Regions from separate parts of the Homo sapiens genome. Here region 2 is linked to region 1. The links come from fine-mapping of genetic effects on gene expression. A gene starts in region 1. The other region holds a variant in brackets. All regions are shown on one strand. Distances are from middle to middle.

Evidence for each region. PIP is the estimated chance that this variant, and not a neighbour inherited with it, causes the effect.
Region 2: its variant is fine-mapped to the expression of ELOVL4 in testis (GTEx, PIP 0.95).

The regions. Positions count from the first base shown.
Region 1 is chr6:79,940,867-79,953,239 of GRCh38, forward strand. ELOVL4 (ELOVL fatty acid elongase 4) reads right to left here and starts at 6,687. Exons shown (of 6, transcript NM_022726.4): 1 at 6,314-6,687. The coding sequence starts at 6,413. LOC124901350 reads right to left here and starts at 8,767. Exons shown (of 2, transcript XM_047419628.1): 1 at 8,702-8,767; 2 at 6,521-7,145. The coding sequence starts at 6,949. The coding sequence ends at 6,521. LOC124901351 (a long non-coding RNA gene) reads left to right here and starts at 6,939. Exons shown (of 3, transcript XR_007059656.1): 1 at 6,939-7,061. It also overlaps the pseudogene GAPDHP63. RefSeq lists a silencer at 6,747-6,796.
Region 2 is chr6:79,882,830-79,895,202 of GRCh38, forward strand. No RefSeq gene overlaps it. Among named protein-coding and RNA genes, the nearest start is that of ELOVL4, 59 kb to the right of the region's middle. The variant A/G (reference allele first, on the strand shown) is at 5,848.

The DNA.
Region 1 (12,373 bases):
AGGAATCCAGATAATTAAACAGGTATAGTGTTACAGCAACAAAAGCAATGTTATTTCAAAACAGACGCTTAAATATCTGTATACTTTTGTTGCTCTATTCCTCTACCTATTTCTTATAAAGCAAATTTTAAAAAGTAAAAAGAACTAAATAAGAATCTGTTATTTGTACTATTTAGGCAGTGTTGATAACAGTTTTGCTGGAAAAAAATTTTATTTACTATAAAGAATGAGGTTTCTGAATCCCTGATAAATGTATATTTATTTGAAATTGCTTTACCTATTCCAAGAATAAAGAAAGTGATATCTATATCTAGACTTTTAGAGTCAGGTAGGACCTTACAGATTACCTAATTTAACCCTCTTAATTTACAGAGAACAATGCTGAGAATTGGGAAGGCAAAGGAACTTGTCCAAACTCTCATAGCAAATCAGCAGCAGACCAGGACTAAAACCTAGGTCATCTAAATCCCAGTCCAGAATTCTTCCCATTCACTATACCACACTGCCCTCCTCACTTCCACACAAGGCAATGCTTCTGCACAGACAATGAAGAGAACAATCATATCTGATTTTATATGTCTTGGAATCTTCATTTTTTATCTGTTTTGTGCTTCTAAATGACTTAATGGCCTGATTTACTCATTAAATTTAGTGAACGGCAACTGAATTAATGACCAACTCATAAAAAATATCATTCTTTTAAAGAACTCTCTGGCCGGGCACAGTGGGTCGTGCCTGTAATCCCAGCACTTTGTGGGGCTGAGGTGGGCAGATCACATGACACCAGGAGTTTAAGAGCAGCCAGGGCAACATGGTGAAATCCCCACTCTATGAAAAACAAAAACAAAAACCTTCTGTAATTTAGTGTGGTCTAAAGCCTTATTCATGTTTAGCAACCACAATATATCATGATTCAAAATTATGCTAGATTAAGAGGGTCATCTCCTGATACATATCATATCAACAAATATATGTGATAATCTCTGATGTTGGAGAGAAAGATACAAAGGAGTGAAGTGGTAAATAATAACGAAAGTTTAAACAGTTTGACACTAGGGTCATAGAAGGAATGGCACAGGAAATACGTGAGTAATTACTAAAGACAATGAGCTCCTGTGAGACAACAACTTGCTCCAGGGTACCATAAACAAGAAAGGCTTTGCAAAGGAGGACTATTGTACTGGGTTCTGGTAAAAGGTATCTGGAGAGGTAAACAGGGAAAAGGTGGGTAAAGGCAAGGGGAATGGTGGGATGAGAAACATAAAGGTGGACATGTACACATTTTACTTAAGGGTCAGTGAGTTATCCCAGTTGGCTAGAGCTGCAGGTCTTTGGGCAGGGGAATACTGAAGGATCAAGCGAGAAAGTTAATGTGGACCTTGGCTTTAAAAGGCCATGTGTTTCCTCCCATCTCCTTTCTGAAATCCAAACCCACATGATTTTAAAATATATATTCTAATAGAAAATAAAACAATAGTACCTTCGTTTGTTAACAGGCAAAATGTCCTGATAATGAAGACGAAAAAAACATCTAAAGTGAAAAAAGATAGACTGTTACACTACTCATTTCGGTGTGCTAATATATGCCTAATTCAGAATAATAAGTGGCTTAACAAATGAAAATACTTACGTTAATAATGTTAAAGCATTTACAGGTGACATTATCCACAGGACTTGAGCAAAAAAATAAGAAAACAAATTGAATTTTTAAAGGATGACCAAGTGCTCTGTGGCTCTTAAGTTTACAAAAGTGCCATCTGATATAATTATCTGCATAATTCTTAAAACTTTGTCTTCCTAAGCCAAAGAATCTAAGTTAAAATAGTTAAAACTGTGTCCTGACACCCGTTTTAGAACCTGCATTGTTTACCCTCCTGGAATTCCATCTGCAATAGGATGTTTTACTTTATGCTATCATTGGGGAATGGATAAGAGCATTAGCTATTAAAGTCTAGCAGTCTACCACCAAAAATCAAACTGTGGTGAAGGAAAAGACAATAAAAACCAAACCAAAACAAAAAACCATAAAATGGCATGGACATCCCAGAGGCTTCAAGGAGCTTATGAGTAAAGGATAATTAGGACGTCACTGAAAACAGTGACCAAGGGAGATCCCATGTTAGGAGCTGGTGATGTTTCTTTCTTTCTTTTTTTTTTTTAATTAGCTGCCTACAACTTGGAATCAGAATGTCTTTTCTCAAAGAAACATTCAAAGAAAACTGCATTACCAGGCTTAGCCAAACAAATAAACCTATTTTAGATAATAACATAGATGAAAAACTAAACATTAACTGTGACGAATAATAAAATTAATGTAAGCATACTGTACAATACTTAAAATACATGCTCCTCTGGGACCTAGCAATCCCTAAGACAAACCTGCTTTTACTTCAGCTTATTTGAGCTGAGTTAAACATCCCCTCCCACTAGCCCCCAGCTTCATCAAACCTGGATGACTCACTGGCCTGACCCTTAAGCACCTTCCCAGTTTCCATGGTTTTCAGTCAAGCTGTTCCCCTTGCCTTTGACACCTTTTGCCCTAGTATGCCTCTCCAAATACTCTGACAGTACTCACATCAACTCCTCATTCAAGGGTAGAGGGAAGTAAACTGTGGTGAAACAGCTAAAATATTCTAAAAACAACTGTATATTCCTTTCACTTAGGAGAAGTAGAGATGAGAAGAGCAGGGAAGGACTTTTCTGATCTTCCCTAGGCCCCAGCTAGTCCTGAGTCTGACAGATCACACTGCCTCCAGACCATGATATCAAGGAAAGGGGAATGACAGTGACCCCCTAGACTTTGCAAGATGCATGAGGGCAGTGACCAAGTGTCCTCCTTTCCTTTCCAGAGCCTAGAACTGTGCCTGTACATGGCAAGTAAATACGGAAAGAAATGGTATCATAAGCCTGGCTTCCACATTTCGTCATCCTACAGCTCTCCTCCCTCTTCCTGTACCACTCATCCCTTCTTTCTGACCCCTCCAAAGTTAATTCAAGGACCCAGCAAGTTATGTTCTAACTGCAACTACCAAGTAGACAATTTTTTTCACCAAAATGCAGGGTACTATATCTGCGAAAAGAGGGCCAATGCCAATCATTACCACCCCCAACCAACAGACAGCACCCATACCCTGTGAACAACAGCTATTTAGAAACAAATGGTCAGAAGATACATGGCCTCACAGGAGACACCTGGCTTTACCGTAAGCATCCTACTAACTCTCTAGGGTGTTTATATGCTAAATGTCAGGTATGCAAAAAAGCTATTAAACATTTATTAAAAGCATGAATAAATGAATAATGTAGATAAGTTGGGTATTCATAGATTGGGGAATATTTAGATTCATCAGTTTAAAAAATGTATATACAACTTTTATTAGATGTATACGTTGAGCCTAGGACTCCAATCCTAATAATTTAAATGTACTCATGAAGTGAAAGAATAGAAGAAAAAAACTAACATGATGACATGGAATACCTACTCTAATACTAACAACTAGTATAAAGTCCTACACCAGCCTATACTTTAACATAAACCAACGCTAATTTCCTCGTTCAAAATGTCTACAAATACAGAGAAATAAAAATTATTTTTGTTGTTTTTCTAAAAGTATAGCTCTTTCAAACTTTCAATTCCAATGTACAAAGTGTTAATACTGTAGTAAAAGTAACATTTTTGTTGTTAACATTATTATGGACCATATTTTGTATTTGCTACATATGTGCCTCTGAAAAGCCCAGTTTTCAGACATTGCTTTGGATATGTTTGGATATTTAAAGCACCATTTGATATAATAGCACAAAATGGCATTTAATGAATTAATAAAAGAATGAAAGAAGCATGTAACTACAGCACTAGGAATGAGAGCAGCCAAGGACAAGGAGCCTACCTCATTTCTTGCTCTCCCTCAATAATTTGCATCCTTTCACCACACTCATCACTATTTCTCAAGACCATCTTTCTATCCCGCCCATTTCTGTTTCCCCTTCTTTCCAAACATTTGACTCACCAACTTTTGTTTAACCTCATCTTATAAGCTACTTTTCTATTTTGATATCCCCCACCCAGATTTTCATCAAATTATGCTGAGAGGTGGAATCAGAGCAGAGTGAATGAGTCCAAAAAAAAAAAAAAAAAAAAAAAAGGAACACGAGGGGCATAGAATGAGGGAGAGTAAACGTAAATGGGACACCACAGACTTCAGGTCTATTCGGCCTGGACCTGAAAAATACTCCTCCTCACACAGCAGTACAGCAGAACAGACTATATCCACTAAGCCTCTCTGTTGGTTAAGAAATACCATCTGCCTACATAAGGTAGCTCATTACAGAAAGCAAGGAAGCAGTCTCAGGTTTCGTAAGTGGATAGTCAAAGCATAGGCAAATACCTTCCTTCGGCCTGCTAGTGAGAGGTCACTTGTGTTCTAAGGCTACTCTCACTTCTCAGGCTTGGCCCACAATATTATATTATTTTATATGCCCTTCGAAGCCTAGTAGCAAGCTTTCACATGCGGCAACTGCACAAAATTTCCTGTTTCATTTGTGTGTGTGTGGTTTCTTTTACACAAACATCATCAGGAAGGAATTCACCATCACAGAAAGGTGTATTCTACCTTTGCCCTCAATTTTTCCTTCTGAGACTCAAGAGATGGGAAAGCTCCGGGATAGGATAGGAATGACAGGACCGAGAACTCCTGGGTGTGGCTCTGGCTATATGGAGACTGGAGTATCTCAACAGTGTCTGACTCCTAGGTGTGCGAAGTGCAATTACCTGCTAAAGAACTTGTCTGATGTTCAGCTCTATACAATTGTGTAATGGGAAGCCCTGATGCAACGTTTAAAGAACCGAAATCACAGACGTGAAGGGAAGGGCACATCTTTCCCAGTTTTTGCAGGTACAGTGTAACATCAGTGTAATAGCGCATAGAAACAAAAAAAAAAACTGAAGAAACACTCCATTGAAAACTGCCTTTTAACCATTTTCAGCTGTAATGGCTTATTAAATAGCTTATTTCCCAGTGTCAAAGTTGAGATCTTCTGAAAAAGAACATACTTTTCTAAAGAAGTGAATGCAGTATTAATGCCAAATAATCATTTTGTCTCTCACAAAAATAATTCCAGCATACGTTTTTCCCAAAACATAAGCCCTATGTATCGGACTACATTCATGCTGTAACCACTGTCTAATTTCCTCTAACAACAATGAACACAAAAACTACAGGAGTACATTTTCATTTCGAAGTAGGGAAGGCAGAGTCATAAGATGGAACGTTAATATCCTTCACTGATAGGATGCAGTGTGATACTGCAAAAGGACCAGAAAAATTGACCTCGTAAAATCATTTCTGAAATCCTTTAAACCTTATTTTAGATTTCAAAGACTTTTAAATGCTTTAAAATCAAAAGCAGCGAAGCAAATGAAGAAATAAACAGTACAATGTAAAAATATAATATCACAGTTGGACGCTAGGAAAGCTGCATAAATCAAACAATTGACAGCCCTGCCAAATTAACTGCAACAGCTAAAGAAAAGTTTGCTGATTTAAGAACTGTATATATGTAGGCATCTGGGACAACCTCTAGGTGTTGCTGTAGAGACCCCCTTCCTAAAGACTGATTTCTTCCCCGGTGTTTTGGCCTCCCCCTCCCCCTGACTGCACTGCAGTGCGCAAAGCCATTATAGACAATCACTTCAAACATATTTGCTGTTGAAAATGCCTCGGAAACTAACATTCTTCAAGGTTCAAGGAGCCAAACAATATTATTTTACTTTTCAGTCCGAATTATACTATAGATGAAGGAGCTAGATAGAAGAAAAGATTAGCAGGGTTCTGTCAAAGCGACCAGGAGGCTGAAGAAACCTCCTGTACCTTCAGCTGCCCCTGAAGCCCTCCTTCCTCCCCAGCCCGCTCTCCATACAAAATAGGACTAAATGTTAAAAGGAATCCTGTGCACGGGGAAGAGGGAGGCGAGCTCGGGAGATGTGGGAGCACAGGGTGGGGCGGCTCCTGCGAGGAGCTCCTGGCTGCACAGGCTCCATCTGATATGTCAGCTCCCGCATCCGAGAGCTGATGAGAGATGGAGGGAGCTCAGAAGAAAACCCTGCGAGTGTCGGGGGAGGGGAGGCCTTAACATTCGGATCAGATTAACCAGTGCTCAACCGCAGTGCCCGCGCCGGCCCCTCCGCTGATCCGCAGCATCCGAAAGCCGCAGGGCGCGGGGGCCTGTGGGGCCGGGCCCGGGAGCTGCGAGACCAGGGGCCGGTGACCCCCCGCGGGGGACCGAGCGAGGATGGGGAAGTCAGCGGCTTTACCTGCGATGGACCAGGTCCAGCGGTAGAACTCTACCGTGTCGTTGAGTGCCGTGGACACTACGTTTAGGACACTACCCGGCTCCGAGTCCAGGAGCCCCATCGCGGCGATGAGCGGGCGCTGGCGGCAGGAGAAAGCGGAGACCCAGAGAGAGGGCTGACCCCGGAGGCGGTGGCGGCCGACGGGGCGAGCGGCGGCCGGGAACCCCTCTAACGGCGGCGGCCCGGCTGCGTCTTCTCCTGCTCCTCAAGGCGCCGCGGCGGCGGGGATGCGGCAGAAGGCAGGGCCAAGCGGAAGGCGTCGTCAAGGTTCCCGGGAGAAAGACGAGGAGGTGGAGGAGGCCCAGCCGCCAGCACAGTGCGCTGCACCAGTCTGCAGCCTCGCGCAGCCGCCCCTCCAATCTCCTCAGCCGGCGTCACGTGGCCGCGCGCGGGGGCGGGGGGCCGGCCGCCCCTCCTCCCTCCCTCCCTCCCTAGTATTGGGACTCGCTGGCGTAGGGATGCTGCGCTCAAGGGTGCGACGCCAACTGGGCTCGCGCAGGCGCGCGCCGTCGAGCGGGAGCGGGACACCTGGGCTCCTCCTTGGCCCCTCCCCGCACAAGTCGCCTCATTAGCCTTCCCCGCCCCTGTCCCGGGCATCGGCCCCTGCGGAGGAGTTCACCGCCTCCCCACGGGTGATTTCTTATCCGCCCCGGATACGTCCTGGGAAACAGGACACGGGAAGAATGGGTGTTCTGTGGGCAAAGATGAGGTAGGCGTGGTGCTTTGGTCCTTACCTGACACTCACCTCGATTTCACTTGTGTTCCTGTTTCTTTGACCTCCACCAGCACATGCCTGTCACCATGACAAGAGAAGTGCATGTGTTATGCCTCTGAAGAAGTGAAGGGTATTTGTCTTCCATGCTTCAGCGATGGAGAATAGACTTTGGGGTCGACCCATGAACAAATCAACATATAATTGCATGAATGCTTGCATGTGTTTTGTAGACTCTTTTACTATACATGGAATGAACAAAGCAATATAATTGTGCTAAATTAGGCCATTAGTAGTTCAGAGAAGAGGGAGAACCGAGAGGGGCTTACAGGTGAAGTCCGCTTGAACCTGAAGAAGTTGAGGTGAATCTGAAAAAGATAATCGCTCAAGAGGCAAAGGGCAATTTAGTGTAGAGAGGAAAACAAAGTAATTGTGGCTATTTTGAAAAATTGTTTAGATAAGGTATAGGAGAGCCTACCCTTGAAAAGTAAAAAAAATACAGTACTTGGAATTCATAATTTGATGGTTTCTCACATAAAACAAGATTTTTGAGAATAGTCCTTTCATCTACTTGTTTTTTAAATGTGTCACCTACTTGTTTAACCTTTTCTCCACTTGCTCATTTTGGATGCTACATTTTAAAGACCAGTGAGTCAAGTGTCTTATTGTTCCTGCCCTTTCACACTGTTAATGTGAATACTATCTTTTATCATACTGAAATGATCTATTTCCCAATTGACCTGGTTATATATTGTCTATATTTTATATTGGAAGCATCCTAGATGGTAAGAATTATTTTTGGTTGCTTGATGAGTACCTAACCCAGTGCTATAAACAGTAATTAATAAATATTTATGATGACAAAAATATAACATGTCTTTCAGAGAATAATAAGGATTATTGTGAGTGGCAGGAACTTTATTGCCGAACTAAAGCAAACACAGACTTCTTTAAATGCCCTATTCTTGAAATTAACCAAATAAAATGTTAATTTATTAATTTGTCAAATATATTTGCAAATCTAAAGTTTTCTGGATTGGAATGACAATTTCTCAAGTCTCAATCCTAAATTATGTGTAACAGATTCTAGTAGCTATATAAAAAAAAGAAATCCAGTCAAGTCTCTTCATTTAGGGAGTGGATAAATACCCATTCATTTACAGTGATGATCTAACAAAGTTCGGATTAGTTCGAGCTTCACCTAAAAATTTGATTACTATTTCTATATTGTGGAATCCTGGAGTTTTTAGGGAGAACAGATCTCTACCCATACTTCCATTCACACACGCAAAACTGCAGCATAATACTTAATACAAGGAGAAATTGTTAAAACAGCTTCAGGTATTTCCCTGGTATTTCTTCTACCGTGGAGGTCAACTTAAGTCCCTATTCACTAGGGGGTGCCAGTCACGTATAAGAAAATCATAGATGAGATAACCTTCAGCTGGGAATGGCGGTCACACGGATATCACCGTGTCCACACTCCACCTGTAAGAGTAGAATGTTTATTTACATTTATAAGCTGTCTAAACATATACCAAGAACCAGAACATAAAACTTACCCAATCTGGAACCCTATTACCTGGCATGAATAAGTGGTTTGTAAATACCAGTGACTGCCCAGAACCAAAGCCTACCTTGTTTAGTTGTGCAAAGGGAGGGAAACCCGCATGTCTGCCACCTAGAATAACAGCCATCTAACCAAAATCTTGGTAGCATCATAACAGAGTAAAAGCAAATACAAGCAACAACAGCATCTGCAAACTTTGAGAACAGAGTTCTTTCATGTGGATCAAATGCAAATAGGATACAGTTACCTACAAAACCTAAAGGAGAGGACATTTTATCATAAATTTTTTTGTATAAAATAGCAATATTTTTTTCTTTTTAGAAACAGGGTCTCACTCTATCAGCTAGGCTGGATTGCAGTGGTGTAATCATAGGTTAGTGCAACATCGAATTCCTGGGCTCGAGCTATCCTCCTGCCTCATCCTCCTGCCTCAGCCTCCTAAATAGCTGATAGAGAAGGAGGACTGGCTGTGTTGCCCCGGCTGGTCTCAAATTCCTGCCTGCAAGCAATCCTCCTGCCTTGGCCTTCAAAACCACTGGGATTACAGGAGTGAGCCACCACACCCAGTACAAAATATTTTTAAATGTCCTACAGTCCATACAAGGTTAGCAACATAAATCAAGCTATCCATCTTTTTTTTCCTAGTCCACCTTTCCATGTTGGTAATATTGTCAGCAACCTCTGCTTTCAAAGAAAAGTGAACCTGGAAGCCTGTTGAGTCAGGAGTAAAAAGAAATAACCTAATTAAAGAGTTGTAGAGAAAGACTTTGAATCTTCTAGAAGTAAATTTTGCTACATGGATGCTACTTAGAGAAAATGGAGAAAATTGTTGATAACACTAACTACTATTAGTTCCAGTCTTTTGTTTTATTCTGCTCATTACTCCTCCCCCACGTTATAGCCATCATATAACACAGGTGCTTGACTAACTTGGAATTACAATGTTTTCCACGAGATATGTTTCATTCAAACTTTTAAAGATGTTTACCTTTTTGTTAGCTTGTATGAATTATTTTTATTTTATTTAAATGGACATAGATTATCCTGATAATACATTAGCACAGATAAAATAACAAAAAAAGAAACAAAATGAAAATCCCCCCTATAATTTTGTCTCCCATTCTAAATAAATTTTACATGCCTATATAAGCCTTTTTTTCTTAACACAGATGGTTTTTTAAAATAATGCTACTCTATAATCTGCTTTTTTAAAAATTTAATACATCAGGAATACTTTTCAACGTAATACCAAGTACTTAATATTCCATTATATGGATACACACTCATTTATGTAGCCATTTACCCTATAGATTAGCATTTAGATTGTTTCAAATTTGAACTACTGTATCAATTGGGCTATTAGTATCCACAATATGCAATTTTGTGCACTTGTTTAATAACTCTTAGCATAAATATTTACAAGGGAAATTTCTGGGTCAAAGGTTTGGGACTTTTTTTAGGGGTGGAGAGGTGGTTGTTTTTGTTTTGAGACGGCATCCCACTGTCTCGCCCAAGCTGGAGTGCAGTGGCCCAGTCTCGGCTCACTGCAACCTCTGCCTCTCGGGTTCAAGGGATTCTCATGCCCCAGCCTCCCGAGTAGGTGGGATTACGGGTGTGTGCCATCACACCCAGCTAATTTTTGTATTTTTATTAGAGACAGGGTTTCACCATGTTAGGTAGGCTAGTCTCAAACTCCTGGTGTCATGTGATCTGCCTGCCTTGGCCTCCCAAAGTGCTGGGAGTACAGGTGTGAGCCACTGTACCTGGTCAAAGGGTTTTAAGTTTACAAATTTTGACACATCGTGCCCACTTAACCTCCAGAAATGTACCAATTCACAATTCCACCAAAATTTATGAAAAGGTGCTCATTTCCCCACCCCATTCTCTTTACTGAATGTATGCTTTGTAATCATTACCAGTCTGAGAGGTAAAGATTGATATTTCATTGTTGCTTGACAGATTATCATGTTTATTGCAATTTTAGCCTTCTTTCAGGAATTGCCTGTTTGAATTCTTTAGACATTTTCCATTAGTTGTGTCTACTTTTTCTTATTGATTTATAAGACATCTTCTTATAATAAAGTTATTAACAGTTTGTCTGCATATGTTGCAAATATATTTTCCCAGTTTGCTATTTGTCTCTTACTAAATTTATTATAATGATTTTCAACTAGGCATATTGAATGCTGGGAATAAGTTAGGTTCACCCGCCACCACCTCCACCAGAATCATATATCAGAATGCCTTCTCAGCTTTGCAACCCCTGATGCATATTTCTAAGGTACATATGCTACTCCTTTCCTAAGAATGACAACTACAAATTACTTACATTGGATATTCATTGTTTTGGTGTGACCCAATATGTACACCCAATCTGTATTCTTTACCGGTCAAAGCCATTAGCCCAGTCTCTCTTCACATAGCCATGTTTCAAGGCCATATCCCACACTTTTAGTCATACATTCAAGCATATAGTGATAAGAGGGCCAAACCATGGTGGTTCTGCCCGTTTTTCCTGGCTTGGCTATACCAAGAAAAGTTTTGTCACTCTTAATTGAGTATTGTCTGAGTTGTGATTTCCTTCACTTACTACTCTAACATATCTGTCTTCATGGATATCAACAAACTTTGGTCCAAGAAATCTGGTAATAAATTCCAAGTGTTAATGGGGAATGCCTTTTCACCCTGCTCTCATATTCCTATTACTGAAGAGCAATCTGGTTTCAGGGTAGGAGAAGATAAAAAGAGCCTGAGGGGAAATAAACTCACCATGATAGAGGAAAGAAACCAGCTGTATTTCAAGGACTTACTTTTAAAAACCCAAGACATCAGAAAAATACTTGGTTCTAGGCAAGCATTTAGTTGATTCCAGAAGCTATCTCCTACCAGCCATCCCGATGACCCAGGAATGCTTCTTAAGGAAAATGGTTATATGTGAATAAATGCTTAAAAACTTTCCAGTAAATGAACCATAATTTTATGGACTCAGCAACTTTGCAGTAGGACTCACCTGCCTGTGAACCATACAAAGATAAATGACCCCCCTCTGATCTTGGAGAAACTGTCTTGAACCTGAAGAATCCATACACACTATACACAAAAGCAAATGTGAATAACAACTGAGGGAAAACATTGACTTCTGTAACATCACTTATATATCTGTTCCCTCTTTCTCATCCTTGTCGGTTTCTCCTCTTTTTGTGGCCTGTGAATGTTAAAATTCAATTATTTCTGGCTGCTTTACAAGTTTTTTTTTTTACTTATGTTATCCTTTCTGCCTAAACTATTATGATTGTTATTATTTTTGGCTGAGCACAGGGGACTTTATTGATGGTACACGACAACATGGGGCTCCCTAGGCCCCTCCCTCTTCAAGGGGTGTGCATGGAATGTGTGAGGAGGGAAGATTCAGTGTGGTGGGGAATGAGTGTGCCAGGGACTCCCCAACAGTGAGGGCCTCTTTCTTCCTCCTGTGCTCTCGCTGAGGCTGGTGGTCCAGGGGTCTTACTCCTTGGAGGCCATGTGGGCCATGAGGTCCACCACCCTGTTGTTGTAGCCAAATTCATTGTCATACCAGGAAATGAGCTTGACAAAGTGGTCGTTGAGGGCAGTGCCAGCCCCAGCATTGAAGGTGGAAGAGTGGGTGTCACTGTTGAAGTCGGAGGAGACCACCTGGTGCCCAGTGTAGCCCAGGATGCCTTTGAGGGGGCCCTCTGATGCCTGCTTCACCACCTTCTTG
Region 2 (12,373 bases), 58 kb before region 1:
CAATTCTAGGTGGCTTAAGGACCTAAATGTAAAACCCAAAACTATAAAAACCCTGGGAGACAACCTAGGCAATACCATTCTGGACATAGGAATGGGCAAAGATTTCATGATGAAGATGCCAAAAGCAATTGCAACAAAGGCAAACATTGACAAACAGGATCTATTCAAACTTAAGAGCTCTGCACAGCAAAAGAAACTATCAGCAGAATAAATGGACAACCTACAGAATGGGAGAAAATATTCACAAACTCTGCATGTGACAAAGGTCTAATATTCATCACCTGTAAGAAACATGAACAGATTTCCAAGAAATAACAAACAACCCCATTAAAAAGTGGGAAAAGGACATGAACAGACACTTTTCTAAAGATGACATACATGTGGCCAACAAGCATATATTAAAAAGTGCAATATCGCCATTCATTAGAGATATGCAAATCAAAACCACAGTGAGATACCATCACACACTAGTCTGAATGGCTATTACTAAAAAGTCAAAAAATAACAGATGCTGGTGAGATTGCAGAGAAAATGATGCTTATATACTGCTGGTGAGAGTCTAAATTAGTTCAGCCATTGTGGAAAGCAGTGTGGTGATTCCTCAGAGAGCTAAAAACAGAACTACTGTTTGACCCAGCAATCCCATTACTGTGTATATACCCAAAGGGATAAAACTTATTCTACCATAAAGACACAAGCAGGTGTATGTTCATTGCAGCACTCTTCACAATAGCGAAGACATGGAATCAACCTAAATGCCCATCAATGATAGACTGGTTAAAGAAAACGTGGTACACATACACCATGGAATACTATGCAGCCATAAAAAAGAGTGCAATCAAGCCCTTTGCAGAAACATGGGTGAACCTGGAGGCCATTCTTCTTAGCAAACTAATGCCTGAACAGAAAACCAGATACCACATGTTCTTACTTATAAGTGGGAACTAAATGATGAGAACGCATGAACCCAAAGAGAAACAACAGAAACAGGGGCCTACCTGAGGGTGGGGAGTGGAAGATGGGAGAGAAGTATAAAAAAAAAAAACTATTGGGTACTAGGCTTAGTAATAGTGTGACAAAATAATCTGTACAACAAACCCCCATGACATGAGTTTACTTATATAACACCCACATATAAAAGTTAAAAAAAAAAGAAGTAGAAAAGCAAGAGCAGACCAAAGCCAAAATTAGTAGAAGAAAAGAAATAATAAAGATCAGAACAGAAATACGTAATTTTGAAATGAAGAAAACAATACAAAAGATCATTGAAACAAGAAGTTGGTTTTTTGAAAGATAAACAAAATTGACATCTTGCCAGACTAGTAAAGAAAACAAGGGAGAAGACTCAAGTAAATAAAATCAGAGATGAAAAAGGAGACATTACAAGTGATACCAGAGAAATCAAAAGGATCATTAGTGGCTACTATGAGCAACTATAGGCCAATAAATTGGAAAATCTAGAGGAAAGGATAAATTCCTAGACACATACAACCTAACAAGAGTGAACCATGAAGAAACCCAAAATGTGAACAGACCAATAACAAGTAATGAGATTGAAGCCATAATAAAAATGTCTTCCAGTAAAGAAAAGCCCAGGGCTTGATGTCTTCACTGCTTATTTCTACTAAACATTTAAAGAAGAACTAATATCAGTCCTACTCAAACTATTCCAAAAAATGGAGGAGGGAATACTTCCAAACTCACTCTGTGAGGCCAGTATTACTCTGATACCAAAACCAGACAAAGACACATCAAAAAGAAAAGAAAACTACAGGCCACTATCTCCAAGTAATATTTATGCAAAAATCATCAACAAAATACTAGCAAACTCAATTCAACAATACATTGAAAAGATTATTCATCATGAGCAAGTGGGATTTATACCAGGGATTCAAGCATGGCTCAGCATATGCAAATCAATCATCAATATAATGCATTATATCAACAGAATGAAGGACAGAAATCATAAGATTTTTTTCAATTGGTACTGAAAAACATTTGCTAAAGTTCAATATCCCTTCATAATCAAAACCCCCAAAAACTGAGTATAGAAGGAATATACCTTAACATAATAAAAATCATATATGACAGACCCACAGCAAGTATCATATGGAATGAGGGAAAACTGAAAGACTTTCCTCTAAGGTCTAGAACACAACAAGGATACCCACTTTCACCATTGTTTTCAACATATTACTGGAAGTCCTAGCTAAAGGAATCAGACAAGAGAAAGAAATAAAGGGAACCCAAACTGGAAAGGAAGAAGGCAAATTATCCTTGTTTACAGATGTTATGATCTCATGTTTGGAAAAATCTAGACTCCCTACCAAAAAACTATTGGAACTGATAAACAAATTCAGTCAAGTTGCATGATACAAAATCAACATACAAATATCAGTAGCATTTCTATATGCCTACAGTGAACATTCTGAAAAAGAAATCAAAAAAGTAATTTCATTTACAATAGCTACAAATAAAATAAAATATGACGGAATTAACCAGTGAAGTGAAAGATCTCTACAATGATAACGATAAGACATTGATTCAAGAAATTGAAGAAGATACAAAATTTGAAAGAGAGTCCATGTTCATGGACTGGAAGAGTAAATATTGTTAAATTGTTCTTACTACACAAAGCAATCTACAGATTTAATACAATCTCTATCAAAATACCAAGGACAGTCTTCACAGAAATAGAAGAAATAATCCTAAAATTTATATGGAATCACAAAAGACCCAGAATACTCAAAGCTATCCTGAGCAAAAAGAACAAAACTAGAGGAATCACATCACCTGACTTCAAGTGATATGAGAGAGCTATAGTCACCAAACCAGCATGGTACTGGCTTAAAACAGACACATACAAAAATTAGCCAGGTGTGGTGGTGTGCACCTATAATCCCAGCTACTCGGGAGGCTAAGGCAGGAGAATCGTTTGAACCCTGGAGGCGGAGGTTGCATTGAGCCGAAATCGTGCCACTGCACTCCAGCCTGGGTGACAGAGCTAGACTCTGTCTCAAACAAACAAAACAAAACAAACAAACAAACAAAAAACCAGATACATAGACCAATGGAACAGTACAGAGAAACCAGAAAAAAATTCATACACCTACGGTGAACTCATTTTCGACAAATGTGCCAGGAACATACATTAGGGAAAATGCAGTCTCTTCAAAAATTGTGCTGGAGAAACTGAATATCTATATAGCAGAAGAATGAAACTTGTCCCCTATCTCCTGCCATATACAAAAATAAAAAAAAAATTGCTTAAAGACTTAACTCTGAGACCTTTAACCATGAAACTACTGTAAGAACACATAGGGGAAAGTTTTCAGGACATTGGTCTGGGCAAAAATTTCTCGAGCAATACCCACAATCACAGGCAACCAAAGCAAATATGGGCAAATGGGATCACATCAAGTTAAAAAGCTTCTGCACAGCAAAGGAAACAATCAATAAAGTGAAGAAACAACCCACAGAATTGGAGACAATATTTGAAAACTACTCATCTGACAAGGGATTGAACACTAGAATATATAAGGAAAAAAACCCTATAGGAAAAGAAATCTAATAACTGATCAAAAAATGGGCAAAAGATTTGAATAGACATTTCTCAAAAGAAGACATACAATTGGCAAACAGGCATATAAAAAGGTATTCAACATCATTGATCATCAGAGAAATGCCTATCAAAATCACAATGTGATATCATTTCAGCCCAGTTAAAATGTCTTTTATCCAAAAGTCAGGCAATAACAAATGCTGGTGAGGATGTGGAGAAAAGGAATCCCTTAAGCACTGTTAGTGGGTATGTAAATTAGTACAACCGCTATGGAGAACAGTTTGGAGGTGCCTCAAAAAACTAAAAATGGAGCTACCATACCATCTGGCAATCCCGCTGCTGGGTATCTAACCAAAAGAAATGAAATCAGAATATCAAAGAGATATCTGCACTCCCATATTTGTTGCAGTACTGTTCACAATAGCCAAGATTTGGAAACAACCTAAATTTCCATCAACAGGTGAATCTATAAAGAAAATGTAGGACTTGAACACAATGGAGTACTACTATTCAGCCATAAAAAGAATGAGATCCTGTCATTTGCAACATGGATGGAACTGGAGATCATTATGTTAAGTAAAATAAACCAGGCACAGAAAAACAACTATTCAATGTTCTCACTTATTTGTGGGATCTAAAAATAAAAACAATTAAACTCATGGAGATAGAGAATAGAAGGATGGTTACCAGAGGCTGAGAAGGGTGGTCAGGGAGTGAGAGAGAGGTGAGGATGGTTAATGGGTTAAAAAAATAGAAAGAATAGATAAGATGCAGTATTTGATAGCACAGCAGCAGGACTATAGTCAATAATAATTTAACTGTACATTTCAAAATAACTAAAAGAGTGTAATCGGATTGTTTGTAAAACAAAAGACAAATGCTTGACAGATGCATACCCTGTTCTCCATGATGTGCTTATTTCACATTGCATATGCCTGTATCAAAACATTTCACGTACCCAATAAATACATACACCTAGTATGTACCAACAAAAATTAAAAATTAAAAAAAAGAGGTGGGACCATTAAGAGGTGATTAGGTCATGAGGGCTGAGGGCTTTGCTCTCATTAGTGGATTACTGTTGTTATTTCAGGGAAGGGTTACGTTGAGACTGAGTTGTTATAAAAGCAAGTTCAACCTTTTCTTGATTGCTCACTCTTGCGCTGTCTTGCCCTTCCACCTTTTACCTTGGGGTGATACAGCAGAAAGGCCCCTCACCAGGTGCCATGCCAAGCTTTTGGACTTCATAGCCTTCAGAACCATGAGCCAAATAAACTTCTATTCTTTAAAAATTACCCAGTCTGTGGTATTCTTTTAGAGCAACGTAAAATGGACTTACACACCATCTCTCAACTATGCATTTTTTTGTGTTAACTTCATCCTAAGGCAGCCTCTCTCCACATAGTGGCAAGAGTGTTTCTCAGTGTCTGCTTTATATTCTACCAGATGAACAACTTTAGCAGAAAGCTCCTCTTCCCCAGTAGTGCCAGAAAGTCACAGGGCTGACTCTGCTTGGCCCAGCTAGGTCTTCATGCCCATTTGTAGACCAATTACTATAACAGGAGTGACAGAATAACCTGGTGAGCCAGAAAGGGGTCACAAGTTCCACTTGAAACATATAAATTGGTGAGGGGGTAGGGGGCAGGGAGAGGAGGATGGGTGAATACTCAGAAGTTACTTAGATTATAAACAAGTGGATGGAAAGGAAAGCTGGGAATACAAAGACAGATTAACGTTTGATAGACAGATGGATTGATAGATGATGACAGACAGAAGATAGATTATTGATAGATGAATAATGACTATTGTCAGCCATTTACACCTTAAACATGACTAGAGTTTTTATGTACACATTTTAATAAGTCTGTGTATCCACTGTTGGTATCTTGAATGGCTTCTTCACCTTCCTTTGCTAAGGGATAGATGTTAGTCTTAGTATTTGAAACATTTCTTCTCTATCGAACCAGGTGGACTAATTTTATTTCCTCCTTTTTTGGATTGCTGAAAGTGCTGAAAGGAAAAATAACAGCCCCAATTATTTCAATCAGGTGAGAGGAAATTTATCATTTCCAACTAAAATGACATTGATTAAAAACAAACATCATATATGTCAGCAAAGAAAGGGTCCCAAGGACTTCGCCAAACATTCTTTCATTGCTAATGTTATACAGTTCACAAAAGTTTGGCTGCCTTCTGCAAGGAAAATTATTTTGTTCATTTATTCACTCACTTATTCAACAAATTGTTTATTGAATATTGAGGCAGATTTATCACAAAGCGAATGA[A/G]GCTTAATTTTTATTATTTTATTATATCCTTTTCAAAGGCCTGGAGGAACCCTAGAGATGTGTTTACATGCTTATATATTTTGGTAAAACTTGTAAACGTAAAAAATATTTACAATGCTGGCCATAAAAAAGAACAAAGCCATGTTCTTTGCAGCAACATGGATACAGCTGGAGGCCATTATCCCAAGTGAATTAAAGCAGGAACAGAAAACCAAATACACATGTTCTCACTTGTAAGTGAGAGCTAAACATTGAGTATTCAATGGACATAAAGATGGCAACAGTAAATATTGGGTACTACTAGACGGGGGGGGAGGGAAGGAGGGAGACAAAGGTTGAAAAACTAGCTGTTAATTTAAAAAACAAACAAACAAAAAACTCCCAAAACTAGCTGTTGGGTGCAATGATAACTTCCTGGGTGATGGATTCAACAGTACCCCAAACCTCAGCCTAACATAATATACCCACGTAACAAACCTGCACATGTATCCCCTGAATCTAAAATATAAGTTGATATTATTTTTAAAAAATTAGCTGTAGTAGGTTAAGTGCACTCTCTTTCCACTCTGACCTTCTCCCTGACCACTGAGGGTAGTGTTGAAGAAGCTGTCATCATTTTGGAGATATGGCTAAGGAGAGGATGAGTTAAGGTGTAGTTATTGCTAGCTCTGCTTGTGTAGGAATGGCTTTCAGGGATATTCTACTACCACTGTGCTGGCTTACTGAGTTTTATGACTGAAGCTGTAGAGCAGAACGTTACAACAAGCTTTGAAACATATATTACAGTACCTTTGGGATGGAAAGTAAAACAAAGTTTGTATGAAGCCAAAAGCAAGCCAGAGGAAAATTATTTTAATTTTCAGAAGCATAAAACTGATATAAAAATTATAAGCCAAGGATTCAATACTAGTAAAAATGGAAGTACATTCCTGTTAATAATATGCTTGCTAACACAGAGAACACGCCATACATTAATTTCTTTCTTGATGGTATTTGTACAAGATGTAACTTAACAGAATTTCTGTGATTGTAGCAGTGAGTATATCTGTGTGTGAAGCTGCATATATTATATATCCCAACTATCAGTAATAAAAAGTAAATTTGGATCAACAATGTTATTGCCAGGCATGGTAGCTCACACCTGTAATCTCAGCACTTTGGGAGGCTGAGGTGGGCAGCCTGATTGAGTCTTGAAGTTCAAGACTAGCCTGGGTAACATAGCAAAATCTCCTATCTAAAAAAATTAGCCAGGCATGGTGGCACATGCCTGTAGTCCCAGCTACTCAGGAGGCTGAGGTGGGAGGATCACCTGAGCCCATGAGGTCAAGGCTGCAGTGAGACTGCACTCCAGCCTGAGTGACAGAGTGAGACCCTGTCTCAAAACAAAACAAACAAAACAATGTTAGAGGAAAGACTACATTTTTATTATAATGTGGATGAAATACAAGTATGGAGACATAAAGGGCTAACTCAATTTCCCTCTTGTGAAAGAACAAAGTGCATCAAATTTAAGTGATACAGACTCTAAAGCACTCCACTTATACCATGAGACTCAAGTATATAACGGCAGGCAATGAAAAGCCAAAAAATTGTTGTGGTGGGCTTCATCCTAGAGGACATAAACACAACAAAGAAAAATCCAACACCAAGGAGGAACTTCTCCCTTCCTTCTCCCAGAACACATGGCTTTAACTAGCAGAAATCCAGCATAATGGGATTTGTTCTGAATGAGCAAACAGAAATACTTCCATATTGATTGAAGGAGAGAATGGCTTTGCATGATAAATTGAAATGCCTTTCTTTTAAATAGATTTACTCAAAGAAGAAAAGAGACAGTTTTAGAAAATTTCTGAATTTTCTAAATTAAGAATGAATTGAGAAAAAAATTTATTTGTGAAACTAGGGTGAGATAAATTTGTGTTTGAGACAAAATTTGTCAAACACAAATTTGACAAATTCTGTCTCAAACACAAATTTGTCAAGTACAAATCTGAGACAAATTTTGAGACAAAAGTGTATTTGTGAAAATGGGTTGAGAGATCATGAAGTAAAGAATATTCTTATTGGGGGAACCCACCCCCAATATTTCAACATATGTTCTATGTTCTATTTTCCATAAGTGTTGGCCAGCTGAGAAATAAAGAGAGACAGTACAAAGAGAGGAATTTTACAGCTGGGCTGCCGGGGATGACATCACATATCAGCAGGACTGTGATGCTTGCCTGAGTCTCAGACCAGCAAGTTTTTATTAACGGTTGCAAAAGGGGAGGGGGTGTAAGAACAGGGAGTAGGTACAAAGATCACATGCTTCAAAAGGCAAAAAGCAGAACTACTAGTAAGGGTCTAACAAAGATCACAAGGCAAAGGGCAAAAGCAGAACTACTGATAAGGGTCTATGTTCAGTGGTGCACGTATTGTCTTGATAAGCATCTTAAATAACAGAAAACAGGGTTCAAGAGCAGAGAACTGGTCTGACCACAAATTTACCAGGGCAGAGTTTTTCCCCACCCTAGTAAGCCTGAGGGTACTGCAGGAGACCAGGGCGTATCTCAGTCCTCATCTCAACTGCATAAGACAGACATTCCCAGAGCGGCAATTTATAGACCTCCCACCAGGAATGCATTCCTTCCCTAGGGTATTAATATTAATATTCCTTGCCAGAAAAAGAATTTAGAGATACCTTCCCTACTTTCACGTCTGTTTATAGGCTCTCTGCAAGAAGAAAAATATGGCTCTTTTTGCCCGACCCCACAGGCAGTCAGACCTTATGGTTGTCTTCCCTTGTTCCCTAAAAATAGCTGTTATTCCAGTCTTTTTCAAGGTGCCCTCATTTCATATTGTTCAAACACACATGTTTTACAATCAATTTGTACAGTTAAGACAATTATCACAGTGGTCCTGAGGTGACGCGCATCCTCAGCTTATGAATATAACAGGATTAAGAGATTAAAATAAAGACAGGCATAAGAAATTATAAAACTATTATTTGGGAACTGATAAATTAAAATTTGTCCACATTAAAATGAAATCTTCACAATTTATGTTCCTCTGCTGTGGCTCCAGCTGGTCCCTCCATTCGGGGTCCCTGACTTCCTGCAACACATTCTAATATCAGGAAAGTTTGGTTTGATACTTGAAGAATTAATAAACACATTTTTATGGAGAGATATGAATGTACTTAGAGCAGATGATTTAATACTGTTAAGATGTCAGTTGGCATTCTCCTAAATTTGATCTATAGATTCAACAACATCGCAATAAAAACCCTAGAAGTATTATCTGTGGTCACTGACAAGATGAGTCTAAAATGTATATGAAGAAAATCAAAGAACTTAGAATATCCAAAATAGTTTTGAAAAAGAAAAAGTTAAACATTTGTATTATCTGATTTCAAAACTTACTGTAAATATATAGTAATCAAGACATTGTGGTATTGATGTAAAGATTAACATTTAGATCAATAGAATTAAATAGAGTCTAGTAGAAATTCACATGTATATGTTCAATTATTTTGTATGCTAGGTCCTAATATGACTAAATAGAGAAGAGGGAGTCTTTTTAACAAATACTGCTGGCACAACTAAATATTTACTTGAGGAAAAATAAAAAATTACTCTTATCTCACATGATACACAAAAATTAATTGTAAATAAACTATAGACCTATGGTTTTAAGAAGAAAATATAGGAGAAAGTCTTTGTGATCTTTTGGTATGGAAAGATTTTCTATATAGAACACGAGAAGCATTAAACACAGAAGAAAAAAATCAATAAAATGAACTTGATCAAAATAAAAAACTACTGCTCTTCAAATGCTACAGGCTGAGGGAAATATTTGGAACACATATATCTGACAAAAATTTGTATCCAGATTATTTTAAACAACACTACTTAATACTAAGATAAACAATCCAATGTAAAAATAGGCAAAAGATTTGAACATTTTACAAAAGAAGCACATGAAAGAAGTGCAATATTGTTAACATGAGGGAAATACAAATTAAAGCCAATATGAGATACCACTACAAGCCCATTAGAATGGCTTAAATTAACAACAACATAAACTAATGAAGACAAAACACTGACAATATTGTTTGTGAAGATATAGAGGAAGTAGAACTCTTTTTTTTTTTTTGAGACAGAGTCTTGCTCTGTCGCCCAGGTTGGAGTGCAGTGGCATGATCTTGGCTCACTGCAAGCTCTGCCTCCTGGGTTCATGCCATTCTCCTGCCTCAGCCTCCCGAGTAGCTGGGACTACAGGTGCCCACCACCACGCCTGGCTAATTTTTTGTATTTTTAGTAGAGACGGGGTTTCACCATGTTAGCCAGGATGGTCTCAATCTCCTGACTTCGTGATCCGCCCACCTCAGCCTCCCAAAGTGCTGGGATTACAGGCATGAGCCATCGTGCCTGGCCTGGAAGTAGAACTCTTATACATTGCTGGTGGGAAGGTAAAATGGTATAATCATCTGCAAAAACAGTTTAGTAGTTTCCTGAAGAGGTAAACATGCAATTGCCATACAACCTAGCAGTTCTGCTGTTAGGAAGTTAGCCAAGAAAGATGAAAATATATGGCCACACAAAGACTTGTGCATGGACGTTCACAGCAATTTTATTCATATAGTCAAAAATTGGAAGCAAACTGTCTTAGTCTGTTTAGTGTTGCTGCAACAGAACACTTGAGGCTGTATAATTTATAAAGAAAAGAGGTTTATTTGGCTTATGATTCTGGTGACTGGAAAGTCGAAGAGCATGGCACCAGCAACTGCTCAGCTTCTGGTGAGGTTCACATATTACATCACAGCATGGCAAAGAAGCAGAAAGGTGAGTAGGCATGTGCAAAAGGGACCAAACAGGAGGAGTAGCCTTTATAACAACCCACTCTTGTGGAAACTAATCCATTCTCACAAGAACTAGCCCAGTCTCATGAGAAAAGTGTTAATCTGTTTTAATGACCTAATCACCCTTTCAAGGAACCACCTCCCAACACCGCTATATTGACAAGTAAATTTCAACATGAATTTTGATGGGGATAAATCTCATTGAAACCGTAATACAATCCAAATGTCCCTCAACAGGTCAACAAATAAACAATTTGTGTTTATGTCCACACAATAAAATGTTACTCAACAATAAAAAGGAACAAGCTAGTGTTACACAACAATATAGATAACTCAAAAACATTATACTGTGCAAAAGAAAGTCTATACAAATGAGTACAAAATATATTATTTTATTTATGTGAAACTCTAGAAAAGACAAACCTAATGTACATTGACAAAGCAAATCAGCGGTCCCTTGGAGCCAACTGCATACTTAAAATGGATGCATTCAGTTATGTAAATCAGGGGTCCCCAGCCCCCAGGCTGTGGACCTGTACCGGTTTGTGGCCTGTTAGGAACCAGGCTGTACAGCAGGAGTTGAGCAGTGAGTGAGAAAGCATCACCACTTGAGGTCTACCTCCTGTCAGATCAATGGTGACATTAGATTCTCAGAGGAGTAGGAACCCTATTGTGAACTGCATATGTGAGGGATCTAGGTTGCACTTTTCTTATGAGAATCTAACTAATGCCTGAAGATCTAAGGTGAAACAGTTTCATCACAAAAACATCCTCCCCCACCCACCACAGAAAAATTATCTTCCATAAAACTAGTCCCTAGTACCAAAATGTTTAGGGACTGCTGATGTAAATCATGCCTTAATAGAGTTAAAAATTGAAAAAATAAAACAACCCACGGCGAAGGCAATGAAGATGAGATTTCATTGTCTTTACCTAGAACTCAGTAAGTGGGAAAAAAGAGATAAAAATGATGAAAATGGGGACAGAAAATGTAGGGAACAAATCCTAGAAATCCAATCTTTATATTTAGACTTCTAGGAGGAGATATTCTTTTAAACAAAATTTATATCCTGCATTGAGTTGTATAACCTGGCAAAGGATAGAATCTCAGATGATTTATCTCCCGACTGCACTTAGGTTTGTTTGATCTTTCCTTCCTCCTCTTTCACTCATTGTGGCATCCAAAGATTACTACCATCAACAACATTGTATGAATTCTGGCTTAAATATTTGTTCCACAAAATGAAATTTTTCTTGCTTTAGATTCCCAAGCTCTGGGGAAGAGAAAAAGGTTGTCATTACATTGGACATCCTCTATTCATTTACACAGGACTATAGCAATCATGTAAGCCTACTTTTTCAGAAAGTATATACTACTGAAATTTGTGTGTGTGTGTGTGTGTTTAAATTCCTATCTTAGGACTGAAAAAGATGTGCACATCTCTCTTAAATTTTGAAGAGACTATTCAGCAAAGGTAGTGTAGATCCCAACACTTCCCTTCAAATGGGGTGGACCCACCCTTCCTAGGAATGAAGAATAGTGACAACTAATCTGTGACACAACAATTTGAGTAGGATTCCTAATATTTTCATGAGGAGTAGCCAGGCTTTAGGAAATTTGGCAGTGTTAAGGCGATGTAGTAATTTTGCTGGAGGCTTAGCATAATTATTCAAAACAAGTCCCTA